Linked DNA regions of Homo sapiens: all the other regions are linked to region 2. Evidence: fine-mapped expression QTL. A gene starts in region 2. Each other region holds a variant in brackets. All regions are shown on one strand. Distances are between the middles of the regions.

Region 1 (5,337 bases), 110 kb after region 2:
GTAGTGACTAGGACAAAGTTTAGGTGGAATGCTGCTCATGCTGACCATTTCTTTTCTTTTTTTTTTTTTTTTTGAGACAGAGTTTTGCTCTTGTTGCCCAGGCTGGAATGCAATGGTGTGATCTTAGCTCACTGCAGCCTCCGCCTCCTGGCTTCAAATGATTCTCCTGCTTCAGCCTCTCGAGTAGCTGGGATTATAGGTGCCCGCCACCATGCCTGGCTAATTTTTGTATTTTTTAGTAGAGACAAGGTTTCACCATGTTCGTCAGGCTGGTCTCAAATTCCTGACCTCAGGTGATCCACCCGCCTCGGACTCCCAAAGTGTTGGGATTACAGGCGTGAGCCACTGTGCCCGGCCATTTTTTAATTTTTTTAGTAGAGATGGGGTCTCACTGTGTTGCCCAGGCTGGTCTTGAATTCCTGAGCTCAAATGATCCACCCACTTTAGCCTTGCAAAGTGCTGGGATTACAAGTGTGAGCCACTACACCCAGCCTGTGGTGAACATTTTTCTATGTTGTAATTATAATTTGTAAGGATACATGTTTCTCTTGAGTCGATATACCATAATTTAATTAAATAACCATTTTTGCTACTGTTGGGACACAGAAACTGCTCCTGTTTTTTGCATTTATAAATATTTACATTTAAGAGTAACAATGGTAATGTTTGGTGATGAAATCTTTCCTCCAGAACTTCCTCACCTAGACTTTAGGCTTCTTAATAAATGGAAGAATTATGATCCAAAATTGCTCTGTGCTCAGGAATCCTCACCTCTAGAACAGTGTTCCTCTAACTATATGTGATGAAATATCAGTTTTGTTCTTTTGATTTCAAATCTGTCATGGACTTTTTTTTTTTTTTTTTTTTTTTTGGAGATGGAGTCTCACTCTGTCGCCCAGGCCGGAGTGCAGTGGCGTGATCTCGGCTCACTGCAACCTCCACCTCCCGGGTTCAAGCAATTCTTCTGCCTCAGCCTCCCGAGAAGCTGGGATTACAGGTGCACGACACCACGCCCCGCTAATTTTTGTATTTTTAGTAGAGAAGGGGTTTCACCATGTTGGCCAGACTGGTCTTGAACTCCTGACCTTGTGATCCGCCCGCCTTGGCCTCCCAAAGTACTGGGACAGGCATGAGCCACTGTGCCCGGCCGTACCAGTTCTTTTTTTAAATACAAAAACTGAGAAGTGAAATGGAAAAATAAACTAGAGGTATATAAATTATAAGGCTACAGTTTTCATTAGTAGATTCAATAAACATAAAATCACTCTGCCAAATTGCTCTAAAGTTTTTCAAAGGGCCCTCTCCATTTCTTTACTTACTTGGTGGAAGAGCAGGACGAGCAGTATACCAGTGTGTGGACTGGCACCAGCCCAGATATCATACCTTAAGTACACTGCTCCAGGATACTATATCACCTGGTCTTCATCACCTCCGCTGATACTGTCAGTCACTTTGTTTCTCCACTTTGAATTTCCTGCATTTGTAGCAGTTGCCTCACCGCCTTTTGTTACCACCTATTCCTTTATTTCCCTTTTTTTTTGAGATGGGATCTTACTCTGTCACCCAAGCTGGAGTGCAGTGGCGCAGTGACAGCTCACCACAGCCTCAACCTCCCAGACTCAAGTTATCTTCCTCCCATCTCAGCCTCACAAGTAACTGGGACTACAGGCGTGTGCCCCCATGCTTGGCTTTTCTTTTTTTTTTTTTAATTGTTTGTAGAGACAGGGTCTTGCCATGTTGCCCAAGCTGGTCTCAAACTCCTGGGCTCAAGCAATCCTTCTGTCTCAGCCTCGCAAAGTGCTGGGATTACAGGTTTGAGCCACCATACCTGGCTGTTTCTCTTCTTGTTCCTGTTTTGAATTGTGCTATCTCTTTCTTCTCTTTGGATTCTTCTTCTTCTTCTTCTTCTTCTTTTCTTTTTTTTTTTATTTGAGATGGAGTTTCACTCTTGTTGCCCAGGCTGGAGTGCAGGGGTGTGATCTTGGCTCACCGCAACCTCTGGCTTCCAGGTTCAAGTGATTCTCCTGCCTCAGCCTCCCCAGTAGCTGGGGTTACAGGCATGCACCACCACAACCGCCTAATTTTGTATTTTTTTTTAGTAGAGACGGAGTTTCTCCATGTTGGTCAGGCTGGTCTTGAACTCCCGACCTCAGGTGATCCGCCTGTCTCGGCCTCCCAAAGTGCTGGGATTACAGGCATGAGCCACTGCACCCCGCCTTGGATTCTTCTGATCCCTATATGGCAGCTTCTAATTTTCCTTCTGTCTTCATTCCTCACAAGGTACATAGTCTTACCTCTCCCACCTCACTTTGGCCAAGGCCATGTCTGAGAGGCCTCAATATTATTCTTGAGAACTCCTGAGTTTTGGTAATCACAGAACTATCTCTTTTTTTTTATTTTGAGGCACAGTTTCACTCTGTCACCCAGGTACGATCTCAGCTCATTGCAACCTCCGCCTCCCAGATTCAAGTGATTCTCCTGCCTCAGCCTCCTGAGTAGCTGGGATTACAGGTGCATGCCACCATGCCCGGCTAAGTTTTGTATTTTTGGTAGAGATGGGGTTTCGCACTGTTGGCGAGGCTAGTCTCAAACTCCTGACCTCAAGTGATCCGCACGCCTCAGCTTCTCAAAGTGCTGAGATTACAGGTGTGAGCCACCGGATCTGGCCAGTCTCTTTGTCTGAAAAGCCTCTCTCTAGCCTTGGTCTCTACCATCATTTTAAGATACTTCATTGTCTCCTTCTGTAGTTTTTGCTGTCCTAAGCCTCTGCTTTGGACCACCAACTTTTAGCTTATGCATCTAACTTTTACATTTGTCTTTCAGCTCTTGACCTTCTTAGGACTTTCTAGTCTCAGATCTTCCACTGTCATAAAGTAATATCAAGCTGAACCTTCTTTTGTAACTTGTATTTGTATACGATAAAAACTAAACACCTAGCCACTTTGTTTTGTTACCTCATATTCGCGTTGACAAAAATAAGCTTCTAATCTTCTCACCTAAATATTGTAAGTTAAAAATATCAAGGATAATTTAAAAGGTAATTCTTTTCAGTCCTTGTAAAA[T/C]AGTGGGACAGGTGCAGGAAGATAAAACAAACCTGATTGGGCAGAATAGCTTCTTCTGGCCCCTGTTAAAAATAAACACTGGGCCGGGCGCGGTGGCTCACGCCTGTAATCCCAGCACTTTGGGAGGCCGAGGCAGGCGGATCACAAGGTCAGGAGATGGAGACCATCCTGGCTAACACGTGAAACCCCATCTCTACTAAAAAATACAAAAAATTAGCTGGGCGTGGTGGCAGGTGCCTGTAGTCCCAGCTACTCGGGAGGCTGAGGCAGGAGAATGACATGAACCCAGGAGGCGGAGCTTGCAGTGAGCCAGGATTGCGCCATTGCACTCCAGCCTGAGCCACAGAGCGAGACTCCATCTCATCTCAATAATAATAACATTGGGCTGGGCATGGTGGCTCACACCTGTAATCTCAGCACTTTGGGAGGCTGAGGCAGGCAGATTACTTGAGCCTAGGAGTTTGAGACCAGCCTGAGCAACATGGCGAAACCCTGTCTCTATTGAAAAAAAAAAAAAAAAAACGAAAATTAGCCAGGTGTGGTGCGTGCCTGTGGTCTTAGCTACTTGAGTGGCTGAGGTGGGAGAATCACCTGAGGCCGGGAGGTTGAGGCCGCAGTGAGCCAAGATTGCAACACTGCACTCCAGCCTGGGTGACAGAGTAAGACCCTGTCTCGAATAATAGTAATAATAACAACACCTAGCACATAAAAAGTGTTTTTATCTTTCACTTGATTTTTACAACTCTGAGGGTACCAGGGCAGGCGTCTATTATCTCCAGTCTACATCTGGGGAAACTGAGACTTAGGGTGACTGCTCAGGTGAGGCAGTGTGTAGTGACAGAGCTGGTCTGAAATCCAGATGTTCTGACTTGTAGTCTAGTGCCTGTCAGTCACCATCCAGAAGAGGGAATTTTTTTTTTTTTTTTTTTTTTTTTGGGATGGAGTCTCACTCTGTCACCCAGGTTGGAGTGCAGTGGCGCAATCTCAGCTCACCGCAGCCTCCATCTCCCGGGTTCAAGCGATTCTCCTGCCTCAGCCTCCCTAGTAGCTGGGATTACAGGCGTGCGCCACTACGCCCGGTTAATTTTTGTATTTTTAGTGGAGATGGGGTTGGGCGGGGGGCGGTCCTCACCATGTTGGCCGGGCTGGTCTCGAACTCTTAAACTTCAAATGATCTGACCGCCTTGGCCTCCCAAAGTGCTGGGATTACAGTTGTGAGCCACCACGCCCGGCCCCAGAAGAGGGTTCTTAGAATTATTGTAGTCCTTGGGAAACCTCACCCAGGTGCCTCCACGGTTGGAAATCATTAGAAGCCAAGCAGAAAGTATAATACTGTCCATGAGGAGAACTTGTGAGATGTTGTATCATTCTGTTCCCTGCAGCTTTGAAGACAACTGAGCTAGCAAATGTCCAGAAGACAAAATTTTCAAGGAGTTGGAGTCACTTTCATATATGAACAGTGTAAAAGTTTACAATGCTTGGCCAGGCGTGGTGGCTCATGCCTGTAATCCCAGCACTTTGGGAGGCTGAGGTAGGTGGATCCCTTGAGGTCAGGAATTTGATACCGGCCTGACCAACATGGTGAAACCCTGTCTCTACTGAAAATACAAAATTAGCTGAGCGTGGTGGCGCATGCCCGCAATCCCAGATACTCGGGAGGCTGAGGCAGGAGAATTGCTTGAACCTGGGAGGCGGAGGTTGCAGTGAGCCGAGATTGTGCCATTGCACTCCAGCCTGGGCGATGAGCGAAACTCCGTCTCAAAAAAAAAAAAAAAGTTTAGAACTCTTTAGTTAGGAAAGACAGCCTAAGCATATATAATCAGAGTCTTTAAAGCGTTTAAGAGCATGGATAATGAAGACACGGATTTATTCACCTAATCTCAATTTGGATGAACTCCTTGAATATTGAGCATTATCTTAGAACAAAAAAGAAATAATTTGTATAACAAGTGATAAACCAGCCTGGGTAACATAGCAAGACCCCCATCTCTACAAAAGTTTTAAAATCAGTCGTGGTGGCAAATGCCTGCAATTCCACCTACCTGGGAGGCTGAGGCGGGAGGATCACTTGAGCCAAGGAATTCCAGGCTGCGATGAGCTATGATTGCACCACTGCACTCATTGAGCAAGACCCTGTCTCAAAAACAAAAAAGATGATATATGTGGCATCTATTATTCTGAAATTGTGTAGCTTCAAAGCAGATTTTAAAAAGGGCTTTAGGCCGGGCGCGGTGGCTCACGCCTGTAATCCCAGCACTTTGGGAGGCCGAGGCGG
Region 2 (5,337 bases):
CATGCCTGTAATCCCAACACTTTGGGAGGCTGAGGCTGGAAGATTGCTTGAGCCAGGAATTCAAGACCAGCCTGGGCAGCATAGCTCAACCTGGTCTCTACAAAACAATTTTTTTTTAATTAGCCAAGCATTGTGATGCGCACCTGTAGTCCCAGGTACTACAGGGCTTGCTGGGAGGCTTGGGTGGGAGAGTCACTTGAACCTAAGAGGTCAAGACTGCAGTAAGCCATGTTCATGCAACTGTACTCCAGCCCGGGTAACAGAGCAAGACTCGGTCTCTTAAAAAAAAAAAAAAAAGTGGCTGGGCGCAGTGGCTCACACCTGTAATCCCAGCACTTTGGGAGGCTGAGGTGGGCAGATCACGAGGTCAGGAGATCAAGACCATCCTGGCTAACAGGGTGAAACCCCATCTCTACTAAAAATACAAAAAAAATAGCCAGGCGTGGTGGCAGGTGCCTGTAGTCCCAGCTACTCGGGAGGCTGAGGCAGGAGAATGGCGTGAACCCAGGAGGTGGAGCTTGTAGTGAGCCAAGATCGTGCCACTGCACTCCAGCGTGGGCAACAGAGCAAGACTCCGTTTCAAAAAAAAAGTAGGTCGGTCATGGGGTGGCTCATGCCTATAATCCCAGCATTTTGGGAGGCTGAGGTGGGAGGACCAGTTGAACCCAGCCTGGGCAACATAGCAAGATCTTGTCTCTACAAAAAATAAAGGAGGCAGGAGGATTGCTTGAGCCCGGGAGGTCAAGGCTGCAATAAGCACTGTTTGCCCCACTGCACCACCACCTGGATAACAGAGCAAGACCCTGCCTCAAAACGAATGTGTATAAATTAATTGACATTTTAAAATTAATTTTTGTAACCTTAATAAGGCTTTAAGGGTTACATCTATTAGTAGTACAGTTGTTCAAAACAACATAAATATATATTCAATTTTCTAATAAAAACTAAAATTTTATTGGAAATATACGTCATAAAAGAGAAAATTTCCTCCCCCCGTTAGTTCCTATATCTGTGGATAAATATCATTATTTTTTATTAGAATAAGACAAGGTACCGCGAATTTTGTACGTCTTTTTCTTTCCTTTTTAAATTTGTTTTTAAACTTTCCTCCTTACAGGGGATTTCCTTTAGCTGGGCATGGTGGCGGGCGCCTGTAATCCCAGCTACTCAGGAGGCTGAAGCAAGAGAATCACTTGAACCCTAAAGGCAGAGGTTGCAGTGAGCCGAGATAGTGCCACTGCACTACAGCCCGGGCGACAGAGTGAGACTCCATCTCAAAAATAAAATAAAATTAAAAAAAAAAGAGGATTTCTTGGCCAGATGCGGTGGCTCACGCCTGTAATCCCAACACTTTGGGAGGCCGAGGCTGGAAGATCATTTGAGGTCAGGAGTTCGACACCAGAATGGCCAACATGGTGAAACCCCATCTCTACTAAAAATACAAAAATTAGCTGGCTGTGGTGGTGCACCCCTGTAATCTCAGCTACTCGGGAGGCTGAAGCAGGAGAATCACTTGAACCTGGGAGGTGGAAAAATCATTTATCATTAAAAATTATATTTAGTGCCCAGAATGGTGGCTCAAGCCTGTAATCCCAGTACTTTAGGATGCTGATGTGGGAGGATCGCTTGAGCCCAGGAGTTCGAGATCAGCCTGGGCAACATGGAGAGATCTCATCTCTACAAATAATAATTTAAAAATAGCTAGGTGTGGTGGCAAATGTCTGTGGTTCCAGCTACTCCAGAGGCTAAAGTGGGGGAATCGTTTGAACCTAGGCAGTCCAGGCTACAGTGAGCCCTTATCACACCAGTGCACTCCAGCCTGGGTGACAGGGCAAGACCCTGTCTTTAAAAAAAAAAAAAAAAAGTATTTAATGTTATCATCCAACAATTCAATACAAACCTCCTTCAATTTTGATGAAAGCTGAGAATTGGAAATAATTTATATAAAGGTGTCATTTGGTCTCTGGCCCTTCCCCTTTTCCAACTCACAGGCACAGATACCTTTGGGGCTGGATTAGCATTTGCGTTGGGATCCACGGCGGGAAGGGTACAGGATGGGAACTGACAAAAACAGAGCCAAGCTGGTCGGGTCGGTGCCTACCCCAGAATTCGGGGACATTTCTAGATCCTGCAGGAAAGCGCGGGAGGGCCTGACTCAAGCTGGCCTGGCCCTGAGCGCATCTGCGCGCCCGAAGCCTGTCCCTGAGGCACGGAGAGAGCAGCTTTCGGGTTAAAAGGGCCCTGGGAAGAGATGGGGCGGGAAGGTGGTACCCGTTGGGCGCAGGCCAGGCTGCCAGGCCGCAGGGCTCTGTCCCGCGAAAGTCAGTAGGTCTTCCACTAAGGCAGAATTGTACTTTTACTCGACAGCGTGGAGAGGCCGCTCAGAACAGCAGCAGCGGAGGGGAAGTCAGCGCAGGTCACAGACGGTTTCACTCTCAGAGACTTGGCCTAGAACTTGGAGGCCCGCTGCTACAGCACGCTCGCCTCCAGGCCACCCACGCCCCCACCACCCGCACTGAGCCGTTATCTGCCTGACTGACATCTTGGCCAACCAATGACCTTTGGGGCTGCCAAAGCGCCTGCCTCCGAGAGTTGGGCGGGGCGAGTAGTTGCAATGACAAACATTTAACCCAATAGCGAGGAGATTTCAGACGCTACGGCCGCAATAACCAATGACAAGAAAGAATCCTTTCGAAAGGACGTGTCAGGCAACCAACGGCCGGTGCCGCTGCGGGGGTCCGGCGGCTTCCGTTCCGAGAGGGCGGGGCGGCGTCCCAAAACGGAAGGTGGTTGTCGTCCGTTCCCAAGCTGGTTTGAAACTAGGGGTCGGGCTCGGCCGTCGTCGTTGTTTGTCGCCGCATCCCCGCTTCCGGGTTAGGCCGTTCCTGCCCGCCCCCTCCTCTCCTCCCTTCGGACCCATAGATCTCAGGCTCGGCTCCCCGCCCGCCGCAGCCCACTGTTGACCCGGCCCGTACTGCGGCCCCGTGGCCACCATGTCCCTGCACGGCAAACGGAAGGAGATCTACAAGTATGAAGCGCCCTGGACAGTCTACGCGATGAACTGGAGTGTGCGGCCCGATAAGCGCTTTCGCTTGGCGCTGGGCAGCTTCGTGGAGGAGTACAACAACAAGGTGGGCCGGGCAGGGGCTCGGAACCCAGCTGGCGGGGAGCGGGCCCCGGGAGCGCCCTTTCCGGGCCGGAGCCCAGGCCTCAGAACCCTCTTGCGGACTCGCCCTAGGGCCACGGAGCGGTTCCTCTGTCTGGCCCTGTGCTGAAGGTTTCGTACTCGTTGTCTGTCTCCTTTAATCCAGGCAGCATTCTTGTGTAGTCGGCAGTGTAGTGGGGAAACTGAGGCACGGTTTTGTGACTTGCCTGGGTCAGGCAGCTATTTCGGGGTGGAAACAGGTCTTAAAACCGGGTTTACGCCCCAAAGATACTCCATTTATTCATCCCGTGCTCTCCACTCCTGCCGCATTGCTTTCGTTGGTGGGCGGGGAAGGGAAGAGAGAGTGATAGCTGTGAAGGAAAATGCAGGCGCTTCTATTGGTGGTCGTGCACTCCTGGCCACACTAGATTTCTATTAAGACGATCTATTGTACAAGCTTCCCCGCCCCCTACTCCCACCCCCCCCGGGTACTCATGGATCCTAGCCCTTCTGCCAGAATTACTGTTGCTCTTGCTTCCTGATATCCATTCTCTCTAAAGCAATCTCTTTGGAAATCTTGGCCTGTGGCATGATCCCGCCGTTGTTTCCTGAACACAGAAGGATGACAGGGCCTTATCTCTTGGCTTGTTTCGTGCTAGTACAGTTGTGTGACCTTTAGTAGTAAGTCTTGCTGGACATACATCAATTTGAGAATCCTTTATAGAAGCACGGTGTAGTAGGGGAGCTTTTAAACTGGCATTGCAACAAACTCATTTTTGAAAGTTGAATAAGTCAGTTGGAAGAATTTTCTTTCTTCCTTTTACTCAAAGTTGTGAATGATAGCGATCAGAGCAACTGAAAGCTGTGGCTAGTGATATTTAAAGCCACTACTCCTGCTTTATGCCATGAACATCAGATTTAAGAAGAGTAAAACTGGCCGGGCGCGGTGGCTCACGCCTGTAATCCCAGGACTTTGGGAGGCCGAGGCGGGCGGATTACCTGAGCTCAGGAGTTCGCGACCAGCCTGGGTAACACGGTGAAACCCCGTCTCTACTAAAATACAAAAAAAAAAAAAAAAAAAAAAAAAAAAAAAAAAAAAAAAGCCGGGCGTAGCTTAGTGCGCCTGTAGTCCCAGCTACTCGGAAGTCTGAGGCTGGAGAATTGCTTGAACCTGGGAGGCGGAGGTTGCAGTGAGCCGAGATGGCGCCACTGCACTCCAGCCTGGGCGACAGAGTGAGACTCTGTCTCAGAAAAAAAAAGAAGAATAAAACTGTTCAGTGACAAGGCTGATGCAGGGGGGAAGAAACCAGGTGGTCCTGTCTGGTTATTGACTAGCTGTGAGATGTTGCACAGGCCTGTTTTATTATCTGTGACCCACAGTTTGTACGGAAGGGGTTCTGGTTTACATGTGAGGGTCTTGTAAAAAAGAAATTTGAACATTTCACAGTTTGTTTACAGTTTTTCAGGAGCACATTTGTTTCTCTAGAGTAGGTCCTCTTTGGAGTCCACTTTGAGAAGCTGATGAAAGCTATGGATTCTCATTGTCCAGACATTACACATACATGAACAATTTACAAACAAATCCAAGGAATATGCACTGATCTTTAAGTCCACCCATTGCCCGGGCGAGATAGAGCTTTCTTTCCTCTGTTGCTTCTTTCTTCCTTATGGCCCATAGTGGACAGCAGAACTGGAAATGGGATTCACGATTCTGATGTGGACACCGTGTTAATAAAATTAAGACCACTAGAACTATTGTTTAAAGATACACGTGGAAAATAAAAAAGTATGTCTTTCAAAGGGCTTAAGTCTTTTTACACAAATTAATGTTTTTTCTTGTAAGTTTTTCCAGGGTCGTTGGGTAAGCAATAGTTACTCCTATTCCTCAGAGAGGAGAAACTGAGCCACAGTTAGGCTGCTTGGTAGGATCAGTGGAGTAGTCAAACTGCTGTTGCAGGAACTCTACCCCAGTTTGTCCTTTCATTTAGCAACTATCTGGAGCTTCCTCTTTGTGACAGGCACACAGGTAGCATGGCTTAGCAGTGAAATGCAAACTAATAACCCCACTATCAACAGCATTAGCAGTTAACTATATCTTAACTCACATGATGTAGGCAATGCGCTGTCTTAAAATCATTTTTGTGCCTCCACCTATCAGTAGATCAGGGTTCTTAAATTCTGTGTGCCATGGT
Region 3 (5,000 bases), 200 kb after region 2:
TCAGGTTCAAGCAATTCTCCTGCCTCAGCCTCCTGAGTAGCTGGGATTACAGGCACGCGCCACCACGCCCAGCTGATTTTTTTGTTTGTTTTTAGTAGAGACGGGGTTTCAGCATGTTGGTCAGGCTGGTCTCGAACTCCTGACCTTGTGATCCTCCCGCCTCAGCCTCCCAAAGTGCTGGGATTACAGGCGTGAGCCACCACGCCCGGCCTGTCCTCTCCCTCTTTTTTTTTTGGCTGCCCAGGCTAGAGTGCAGTGGTGTGATCATAGCTCACTGCAGCCTCAATCTCCCAGGTTCAAGTAATCCTTCCACTTCAGTCTCCCAAGTAGTTGGGACTACAGGTATGCACCACTATGCACAGCTAATTTTTTTTTTTTTTTACTAGTAGAGACAAGGTCTCATGATGTTGCCCAGGCTTGTTTTGAACTCCTGGGCTCAAGCAATCTGCTTGCCTTAGCCTCCCAAAGTGCTGGGATTACAAGCGTGAGCCACTGCACCTGGCCTTTGTTCTCTTTCTTGACCAGCATTTACAAGGTCTAAAATTTAGAGCTGAGTGGCGCACACCTGTAGTCCCAGCTACTTGGGAGGCTGAGGCAGGAGAATGGCTTGAACCCGGGAGGCGGAGACTGCACTGAGCCAATATTGCGCCATTGCACTCCAGCCTGGGTGACAGAGTGAGACTCCATCTCAAAAAAAAAAAAAAAAAAAAAAAAAAAAAAAAAAAAAAATTTAGAGCTGGACTATGGCATCTTATTTCAGAAACACATCAGATCATACCGAGCTTTCAAATATAACATACTATACCCAAAAAGCTTTTGAGTTTGAGATTCTAGTTAGGTAAAAAACAGAAAACAAAAATACAAACAAAAATATTGGAAATCTCTAATTCTATAATCAGATTTTAAATTTTACATAGCAAGTTTATTTAGATAATAGGGCGCATGTGCTGCCTTCTATTAAAATTTCTAACTTCTTTCTACCAAAGTGTTTGGCTCGAAAACTGATAATGGAATTTTCAAAATGAAATTGTGCTGGGGGAACAGGATAATACTGATAATTTTTCACGTTCACAGACTCAGTGTGGCACGGCTTGAACAGGAAGGATTATTTATTCTTCTTTATAGTGTTATCAATTGATACAATGTCCCAAATGTTGAGAAAATGCTAAACTTTTAGCCTACAAAGATTACCTTAACAACCAACAGAACACAAGCAGTCATCCTTACAAATCGTAGTTTTACCCCAGTGATAAGTTTGTCTAACCTCCAGCCTGCGCTGTTTCTCAGGATCTTCCTCATTCATGATTCGCTCCTTCTCTGCTCTTTTTTTCTCCTCCCGCCGAGACTGTGCTGCTTCCTGTCTTTGCACATGTGTCAGTTTCAAGAAGTTCTCTTCTACTCGGGCACGGTTCTTATCTGCTTTTTGTTTGCCCTTCCCCAAGAAACAAAGTATTTCATAAGAAATCCATTTCTAGTCAACAGCAACAAAATCCCGTTTAGCATTCTTTCATAAAACTACTCCCATTTGGCACTTCTAAATCAACTAGCAAAAATTCAGTCACTGAAATCATTGATAGCTGCCCTCCCCCTTGAGAAGAAACAAAAAAAGGTGCCAATTTATATAATACAGGCATTGGGTCTTACTTCTCTGTTGAGTCGGAACTTTTTGGCTTTATCAATAGAATAAATCACCATGTTCATCAGGGGTAGCAGTGCCTCCATATCCTTTGGGTAAGTGTTACCTGAGCCAGGCACTGGAAAACAAAGCCATTTTTCCTACTGAGTTAATGGTAGCATTAATATTTCCAGGTCACCCAACTCTTTTTTTTTTTTAATCTTAAGAGACTCATTTCTCTAAGTTTGTTAGGCAGTTAAAATGCAGCAGAAAATATAAATTAAAATATATAATAGGTAATTTCTTCTTGAAGAAATCTGGAAATCAGTAAGCAAGCACAGGCTTATAGTTTTGACGTAGTTTTAAAGCTATCATTTAGGAGGAAACAATACTCTCCTTAAGGTCATCTCAGAGAAGACTAAGAACCCAGAAAGGACCCAGAATACTTACCATTAAATGTAAACAACAGTGTCCTCTTAGTGTCAGGTAGCTTTAAAGGCTGACCTTCCCTGTCATAAAAGAAAAGGCAATTAAGAAGGAATACAAGAAAGATGTTTTCCATGTACACAAGTCACCCAATACACTTAGATGAACAGATACCTGCACATAATCAGCACAGTATTTGGCTTGGCATACCCAAGTCAAATATAATGAAGGAGCTTTACAGGTCATCTGGTCCACTCGTCTATCTGATGGATGCATTCTCAAGTGATCTTTATCCTATATTTGAACACCTCCAGTGATGTTCCCTCCAGGCAAGGGTATATTCCATCTCACCTGGGGAGCCAGAAATGAGCCTATATTTAAGTATGAGGCCCATATTTTAGATACATTTTTGCTTATTTTGATGCATTTTTATGTTTTATTTCCAACTCCTATTCTATCTTCCTATAACAAGGCATCTTATTATCTTATTTTTGAGTTAGGCTCAGAGTAAATTTAGGGATAATCTACTACAGCATATATAATTTAGTTCTGTCATTGAAGATTCCTTTGTAATCTCTGCCTATATGAATCCTTTGACTATCAATTGCCCTCCATCTCATATTTAAAAGGCATGATGAATGCTACAATGTGAAACACTGTCCTCAGTGCCACTGAGTTGAGCAA[G/A]ACAAGGATGATGCAGCACTATCTAGAGGCATAAGGACCTGAGTAATCTTAGTATACAACTAAAATCCAGATTGGCTTGAATTGTGCTCAACTCCACAGCCTATCAGAGGGTAGTCTTTAACTAAAAATTTAGTCAGAACCAGTTTCAAACCGAGCATAAAGGTAAATAAATATGCTCTCCTGAGACAGGCTGTGAATTCAAAGAACAAATCCAAGTCCTGAATATGTACTCCTGAACAGTATTACTATAAAGCTAGAAACCCTATGGACATTGTGGGCTTCTATGCTAGGAAAGGATACAATCACTTAACTATTCAAAGAGGGAAGCCAGAAAAGGCCATAAATTACAAAACACACAGATTTGTAATCAGACATAAGTCAAACATCACACACAAATTATTATCATAAAAAAAAAGAACCTATGGACTGGGGCATGGTGGCTCACGCTTATAATTCCAGCACTTTGGGAGGCCAAGGCAGGTGGATCACGAGGTCAGGAGTTCGAGACCAGCCTGACCAACATGGTGAAACCCCATCTCTACTAAAAATACAAAAATTAGCCGAGCGTGGTGGTGCACGCCTGTAATCCCAGCTACTCAGGAGGCTGAGACAGGAGAATTGCTTGAACCCGGGAGGCGGAGGTTGCAGTGAACCAAGATTGTGCCACCGCACTCCAGCCTAGGCAACAGAGTGAGACAGCGTCTCAAACAAACAAAAAACAAAACAAAACAAAAAAACCCACTGCATTTTATTAGTACCAGCCATTCTGTAAGATTCCCAACCATCTCACTGAGTCAGTGGCACAAACATGCAGGGACACATACAAACTGGGATAGGGGAGGCTCATTTCTCTCCCATAGGTTTACAATGACCTCTTATGATGCATGCAGTCAAAGCAAAGGAAAATGTGGAGGCCTGTCACCAACTTCCTTCACACATTTGGTAAGGGATATTGCAGAAGCACCTTACAGGTGTTTCAACACAGAAAGCTAGTGAGGAAAATTAATTTCAACAATTTTATCTTATACGTACTCTTGCATAATTTTTGGACCAGAGAACTGGTCTGAAAAATGAACAGATTCAATCTTGTCAGCATAGTGTGTAAGAAAGTGAACCATCTGAAAAAAAGAAAATAATATTTTTTAAAAGCAAGGTTTAATGCATTTCCCTTTTTTTCCTAAAGATATTCACTCTTTGAGATGGTGCAACGGCTCACACCAGTAATCCCCGCACTTTGGGAGGCAGGTGGATTACTTGAGGCAAGGAGTTTGAGAATTTGAGATCAGCCTGGCCAACACAGTGAAACACCGTCTCTACTAAAAATACAAAAAAATTAGCCGGGCATGGTGGCATGTGCCTGTAACCCCAGCTATCCAAGAGGCTGAGGCACGAGAAGCGTTTGAACCCGGGAGGTGGAGGTTGCCGTGAGCAGAGACCACGCCACTGTACTCCGGTCTGGGCGACAGAGCAACACTCTGTCTCAAAAAAAAGAAAAAAAAAAAAAAAGAAATTCACCTTTCAATCCTTACTTTTATACAATGTCCTTCATTAAGACCAAAGCGTGTTCATTGCTTTTTATTTATTTTTTGTGACAAGGTGTTGCTCTCTTACCCAGGCTAGAGTGCAGTGGCACAATCATAGCTTACCATAGCCTTAATCTCCTGGGCTCAAGTGATCTTCCTGCCTCAGCCTCCTGAGTAGCTGGGACTAAAGGAACACACAACCACACCTGGCTAATTTTTTTATTGTAGAGACAGGGTCTCACTATGTTGCCCAGGCTAGTCCTGAATCCCTGGACTCAAGTGATTCTCCTGCCTCCGCCACCCAAAGTGTTGAGATTACAAGTGTGAACCACAGCGCGCGGACAAGGCTAAAGCTTTTTAAAAATTAAATTTCAATAAGATAGGGAATCTCTTTAGAATTAAAGTAGTACTCCAGGCTGGGTGCAGTGGCTCATGCCTGTAATCCAAGCGCTTTGGGAGGCCAAGGTGGGTGGATCACTTGAGGCCAGGAATTCCAGACCAGCCTGGCCAACACAGCGAAACCCCATCTCTACTAAGAAAAAAAAAAAAAAAAAAAAAGTAGTACTCCTTTTTAGTCATACCAATGATTAAGATTCTTTTCGAGCAGCTAAAAATATTTCTCAAAATAATGGTCGAAACAAGAATGAAAGCATAAAGATAACACCTAAAATAATTTCAGGGGATCCTTTATAAACATGTCACCTTGAACTTACATTTATAACCATCTCTGAGTTATCCTGTATTCTTATGAT

Alleles and levels. Alleles are on the strand shown, and positions count from the first base shown. SD is a standard deviation of normalised expression in the study named.
For the expression in cerebellum of the gene that starts at base 2,793 in region 2, T is the low allele of the variant in region 1 and C is the other (large effect, 0.81 SD a copy in GTEx).
With allele A in place of G in region 3, the expression in sigmoid colon of the gene that starts at base 2,793 in region 2 is higher (small effect, 0.34 SD a copy in GTEx).

The links. PIP is the estimated chance that this variant, and not a neighbour inherited with it, causes the effect.
Region 1: its variant is the best candidate, but not a certain one, in a credible set for the expression of DCAF7 in cerebellum (GTEx, PIP 0.51).
Region 3: its variant is the best candidate, but not a certain one, in a credible set for the expression of DCAF7 in sigmoid colon (GTEx, PIP 0.59).

Annotation. Positions count from the first base shown.
Region 1 is chr17:63,658,679-63,664,015 of GRCh38, forward strand. All of the region lies in intron 5 of MAP3K3 (mitogen-activated protein kinase kinase kinase 3), which reads left to right. Among named protein-coding and RNA genes, the nearest start is that of LIMD2, 39 kb to the right of the region's middle. The variant T/C (reference allele first, on the strand shown) is at 3,063.
Region 2 is chr17:63,547,685-63,553,021 of GRCh38, forward strand. It overlaps DCAF7 (DDB1 and CUL4 associated factor 7), which reads left to right and starts at 2,793. Exons shown (of 7, transcript NM_005828.5): 1 at 2,793-3,131. The coding sequence starts at 2,994. It also overlaps a transcript of KCNH6 not described here. RefSeq lists enhancers at 1,723-2,707, 2,007-2,396, 2,837-2,916 and silencers at 3,067-3,116, 3,137-3,286.
Region 3 is chr17:63,750,676-63,755,675 of GRCh38, forward strand. It overlaps CCDC47 (coiled-coil domain containing 47), which reads right to left. Exons shown (of 13, transcript NM_020198.3): 9 at 3,758-3,843; 10 at 2,066-2,124; 11 at 1,645-1,754; 12 at 1,265-1,432. Among named protein-coding and RNA genes, the nearest start is that of STRADA, 11 kb to the left of the region's middle. The variant G/A (reference allele first, on the strand shown) is at 2,726.